Linked DNA regions of Homo sapiens: region 1 is linked to region 2. Evidence: fine-mapped expression QTL. Tissue or cell type: monocytes. Region 2 holds a variant in brackets; the other region holds the start of a gene. All regions are shown on one strand. Distances are from middle to middle.

Region 1 (2,763 bases), 250 kb after region 2:
CACCCAGATTCCTAGCCCGTGGAAACTGTGAGGGAAAAAAAAGTTTATTGTTTATTAACTGCTAAATTTGGGGTGATTTTTACCCAACAATAGATAACGAATACAAGGATATTGCTTATTATTCAAAATCACTATATAAAGCCCCTGAAAAATTGAAAGCTGCAACCAGGGAAACACTGAAAATCTCCAAGAACCCTGTGTTTCTTCTTAAAGACAGTGAGAAAAAGCACATACATCTGTTTTCCTTTTAGTTTTGGCCACCAGGAAGCTCAGAGCCAAATTTATGATGCAATTTTAATAACTATGTAAGCCCCTATGGCCTGCTTATCTGTGTTCTTATTCCTGGCCTTTCATTTTATTCTGACTTTTCTTTTTCTTCGTCCTGATTGTATTAGCTCATCTTTATTTTTCTATATTATATGAGTTATGGTAAGCAACTTCAAATTCAGCTTACGGAAAAGCAAGGCATTCGTAAATCTCTCTTTTTTTTTTTGAGACTCTTACTCTATCGCCCAGGCTGGAGTGCAGTGGCACGATCTTGGCTCACTGCAACCTCCACCTCCCGGGTTCCGGCAATTCTCATGCCTCAGTCTCCCGAGTAGCTGGGATTACAGGCGCCCACCACGACACCGGGCTAATTTGTTTTTGTTTGTTTTTTGTATTTTTAGTAGAGACGCGGTTACGCCATGTAGGCCAGGCTGGTCTCGAACTCCTGACCTCAAGTGATCCACCTGCCTCGGCCTCCCAAAGTGTTGGGATTACGGGTGTAAGCCACTGTACCCGGTCCATAAATCATTTTTTAAAAATAGTTTTTAAATTTAAAACATAGTTTTGCACATTAAAAAAAAAGTTTTGCACAGGTCTAACCGAAGGTGGTGGTGGGAAGATCAGGTCATAGGTGTGGGTCTCTGGAGCTCCAAGCATTGGCCAGGGTTGATTTGGATTGGGTCAGAAATATACAACGAAAAAGGGAAAAAGGATGGCAATTGATTGCCATCCCCAGAGGGAGGGGCCGAGGGTTCGCCCAGTCACCCACAGTGGCATCCTTGCAATGTGCTAGTTAGACCGCTCCTTTAAGTCCCTCCCGCACTGGCCCGCTCGGCCCCGCCCCTCTCTGGCTCCGCCCCTCCCCACCCCTGCCCCGCCCATCCCCACCCCTGCCCCACCCCTTTCTCCCCCGGGCTCCACCCCTCGCGCGCGACCGGCCGCGCGGCGCAGCGCCACGCCGCCTCAGTCTCCGCCCGCCGATCCGGCCTCTTCGGCCGTTGCGCACTCCACCCCCTCCCTCCGCGCCCGCGCGCGCCTTCCCCGCCCCGTCCGCCTCACTCCTTTTGGGGCGGTTGGGCCGCGCGCCTGTGGGGGCGGGGCCCGGAGCAGGCCACCGAGCCAATGGGGCGCGGCGGCGGCGGCGGCGGTGGTGGCGGCGGCGGCGGAGGCGGCGGTGGCGGCGGTGGCGGCTGGGTCGGGCCCCGACGGGCGGCGGCGGCTGAGGTGGAGGCGGAGGGAGGCGGCGGCGGCGGCGGCGGGAAGATGGCGGCTCCCGTCCTGCTAAGAGTGTCGGTGCCGCGGTGGGAGCGGGTGGCCCGGTATGCAGTGTGCGCTGCCGGAATCCTGCTCTCCATCTACGCCTACCACGTGGAGCGGGAGAAGGAGCGGGACCCCGAGCACCGGGCCCTCTGCGACCTGGGGCCCTGGGTGAAGTGCTCCGCCGCCCTTGCCTCCAGGTAGCCGGCTTGGGGGAGTGGGCCAGGAGCGGCCGAGCGGGGCGAGGGTGGAGTCTCGGGGTGGGGAGCGCGCGGCGGGAGCTCAGGCCTGGGGGCGGCGGGGACCGGGCCGCTGGGGAACTGACGGGGTCGGGTCGGGGCCAGGCGGGGGGCGGCGGCGGGGCGCTCCTGCCCGGGGGGCGGCCTGAGCCCAGGCCGCGGGGCGGAGGTGGCGGGGCCGCGAGGCAGCCGGGGAGGGATGAGGTGGCAGAGTGCAGCCGGGAGGCCGGGGCGGACGCGGAGCGGTCGGGCGGGCTGGGGCCCGGCTGTGCAGGAGCGCGAGGGGGCTGCGGAGGGTGGGTCCAGGCTGGCTTGACAGGTTTCCTGGTTCTCGGGAGGCGGGCCGGGGGTGTGGGACCTTGTCCACCGCACCCTTGAGACCAGCGGCAACCTCTTGTCCCCCCGATCGCTGCAGCCGAGGCTTTGGGGCCGGCGCGGAGACAGGGGGGTTGCCTTTCCCACTGTCTTCCTGGTGCTAGGACAGGTGTTTCCGTGGTCAGGCCTCTTTGTACTCCAGCGCTAGTGAGAATTTGCAGACTTAACTGGGACGGTGACATTTGCTGGCAAACACGAATTTGACCCTACTGTGGAAGAAGATACCCGCACTTAACATATCTGATTTCTTGGATTCCCTCTCGTATGTTTCAGTGTGCCAGGAGAAGGAAATGGTCTGAGTTTGGGTCTAGTTTAAGCTTCATTGGAGTAAAGGACAAGTATGTTATGTATATGGTGGTGTTTTAGGCATTGGAATGACTTTTAAACGTTGTTGCCTATTAGCATATTCGAGACCAGCATATTGGTCAGGCTGGTCTCGAACTCCTGACCTCAGGTAATCCACCCACCTCTGCCTTCCAAAGTGCTGGGAATCAAGCATGAGCCACCGCGCCTGGCCTGCTTAAGTGCTTAAAATTGACTTTTCTTGGCCGGGCACAGTGGCTCACGCCTGTAATCCCAGCACTTTGGGAGGCCGAGGCGGGTGGATCATGAGGTCAGGAGTTCA
Region 2 (2,763 bases):
GGGGAGGTCTAGGAAAATGGTGATGTAATTAGTTAACAGAGGAAAAATAAAATAAATAGAATGGTTAGGTGTTTGGGAATAAACTTGAATTTTGTTCTGAGATAGCCCCGTGAAACTGGCCAGCAGGTGGCAGCATAAGGTCTGGGACCCCACAGACAGTTCACTAAAATTTGAGATTAGGAAGTCTTGGAGATTTTGAAGTTAAAGACAAAAGCAGAAATGCAATTGCCATGGGAGACTGAGAAAAGATGAGGAGTGATGACTGAGAATTCAAGGGCAGGAACCAGGAAAGGACACTGAGAATGCTGGGCTTGGGGGAAGGAGATGAACCGGGAGTCAAGGTTGTCTCAGTCTCCAGGAGAAAGACAGGTGCGTGAGGTTTCAGTGCTGCAGGGACTTGCAGCTGAGAGATAAGGGTGTGCCTGGGTAACCAAATTAGAGGGGTTGAGAGAGAACAGAATAGAAGTGGAGGAAGGGATGCTGTTTAAAGAAGTTTTGAGAGAAAGAAAGTAGATATGGTGGGAGAGCTTGAGAAAGAATTGGAGATTTCTTTAGGATAGGGCACGTTTAAGCATGTTTTCAAAAAAAAGAGAAGGGATAACTAGTGAAAGAGAATAAATGCAGAGTAGGATCTTGATGGAAACTTTAAGGAGAGGCATTAAAGACCAATGTTACCTTTAAATCATGTGATTTGGTTGGGGGATAAAAAGGTACACACAAACATATACTTAATCAGAGAGGAAAGTTCTATGATTAAATGCTAAATTTGGATATAGATAATTAGGGAAGTTCAGAAAATGTATGTAAGTTCACATTGTAAAATCCAAAGCTCTGTGGAGGAGATGAGTGTTTGATGACAAGAAGGATTTGGGAAAGACATCCAAGATGAGAAGAAATGGGGAGTCAGCAGGACAAAGGCATGGAGTAGGACGTGATGTGTAGGTGCGTGAACAGCAGTAAAAAGGTCCAGCTTCTTGGAGAGGAGGATACATGAATGGAAAATACAAAGTGGCAATTTATAGATGGGTTTGGAAGGAGAGTTAAGACACTTACATGCTTTCCACTGAGATATATTTTACACTATGCTTAACTTTGAGTTCTGAATGTTATTGTTTGATTCTCTTTAAATTCATTTCCTGTTATTTAGACTGTATTGGTGAAAATACCCCAGTTAATGAAATGGATGGAC[T/TCATACACA]CACACACACACACACACACACACACACACACACTGTTAACCAGTCACATAACTTTTTAATAGGCTGTTTTCAGAATAACCAGTTTCTCCAAACTCATATTTTCTTTCTTTTTTTTTTTTAACTCGTAAGTGGGAGTTGAACAATGAGAACATATGGACACAGGGAGGGGAACATCACAAGTGGGACCTGTCAGGGGGTTGAGGGCAAAAGGAGAGTGAAAATTAGGCCAAATACCTAATGCATGCGGGGCTTAAAACCTAGACGATGGGTTGATGGGCGCAGCAAACCACCATGGCACATGTGTACCTATGTAACAAACCTGCACGTTCTGCACATGCATCCCAGAGCTTAAAGTACAATAAAAAAAATCATATTTTCTAAGTTCAGCCGAGGTATGTAGCTGTTCCTTTAGCATCTGTAGATGGTATATGATTAGACTTTTATTTCAGGCACAAATACTGAACTGGTTTGTGGCCGAATCCAGATTCTGTGGCATCTCTGCCTCCAATTCCTTTGATTTAATTGGGTGTTGCTAAAATTATAACAATTTGTCCAATTAGAACTATTTCTAGTGCAGTGAAAATGGTGTTTACTCCAAGTGCTAGGGCAAATGCACCCCTAGGGAACTGGGTCAGTAAACAGATTTTCATGCAAATTCCATTGTGGGTGATACCAAAATAACTTGTCTCTGGGTGGAAAACAAATAACACTAATTTAATTTTTTTAAAAAGCAACATATGACAGTTTTCAGATGATGAGAGAAGATATTTGTCCCCCAAATTACCATTTTACCCAGTTTTCATTTCTGTTTTAGGGGAGAAGGGAAGATGATCTGGCATGTTAGTGGTCAAATGTACTTGAAAGGAAAAATTTACAGGATATTCACGAGTAGAGGTGTCCAGCGTTTGCAAAGTGCTTTAAAATGTGGCCGTAAAAAGTTTACATTTTAACTACCTGCAATGAGTCAAAAAGTTAAGACACTCTCTGAAAGTGAGATATCCATGACGCCCTTTTTGCTCATTCAGAACATCATTGGTAGGTTAGGTTATACGTGTTGAGTAACATTTTACATTAGGCAATGGTGATCTGCGAACGTAATTATTTGCTACCATTGGGGGCAAAATTGGCAATGTATTTACATGGATGAGAGAGTGCTTCCCAGCAGGGAGGGACTTCTGTCTTAGCAGTTTTCCAGAGATAGAACATCTTCAAGCAGTGAGGAGCATTTCTTCCTGAAATTTACTCAGTAGAAACAGTTTTCTTTGATAATTTTCCCCTCTAGAATCTCAGGAAAGCTTTCAAAAAGATGTGATATTACTGCTAACTTTTGATTTGCTGGCCAAATTCCAAGTGAGGTAATTCCTACCATCCACTTAGCTATTTATGTAGTTATTATTGCTTCTGAGAGCTGCTGAGTTCTGAAAGCTACTACTACTTAATCCTACTTAAAATTCCCTTTGTCTTTCTCTAGAAGAAAAAAGGACTCTTTTATACTTGTTATCAGTGGTGATGGGTGTTATTTTATAGACTTTTATCTGACCTCTCCCTCCCTCCCTCCCTCCCTTCCTCCCTC

Direction of the effects. Alleles are on the strand shown, and positions count from the first base shown. SD is a standard deviation of normalised expression in the study named.
For the expression in monocytes of the gene that starts at base 1,233 in region 1, allele T in region 2 goes with a higher level than allele TCATACACA (large effect, 0.93 SD a copy in Kim-Hellmuth 2017).

What was found. PIP is the estimated chance that this variant, and not a neighbour inherited with it, causes the effect.
Region 1: it holds the start of VKORC1L1, and the variant in region 2 is fine-mapped to the expression of VKORC1L1 in monocytes (Kim-Hellmuth 2017, PIP 0.94).

What each region holds. Positions count from the first base shown.
Region 1 is chr7:65,871,842-65,874,604 of GRCh38, forward strand. It overlaps VKORC1L1 (vitamin K epoxide reductase complex subunit 1L1), which reads left to right and starts at 1,233. Exons shown (of 3, transcript NM_173517.6): 1 at 1,233-1,724. The coding sequence starts at 1,531. RefSeq lists silencers at 925-984, 1,005-1,504, 1,218-1,397, 1,945-2,014 and enhancers at 1,080-1,631, 2,183-2,734.
Region 2 is chr7:65,621,653-65,624,415 of GRCh38, forward strand. No RefSeq gene overlaps it. Among named protein-coding and RNA genes, the nearest start is that of SNORA22, 130 kb to the right of the region's middle. The variant T/TCATACACA (reference allele first, on the strand shown) is at 1,190.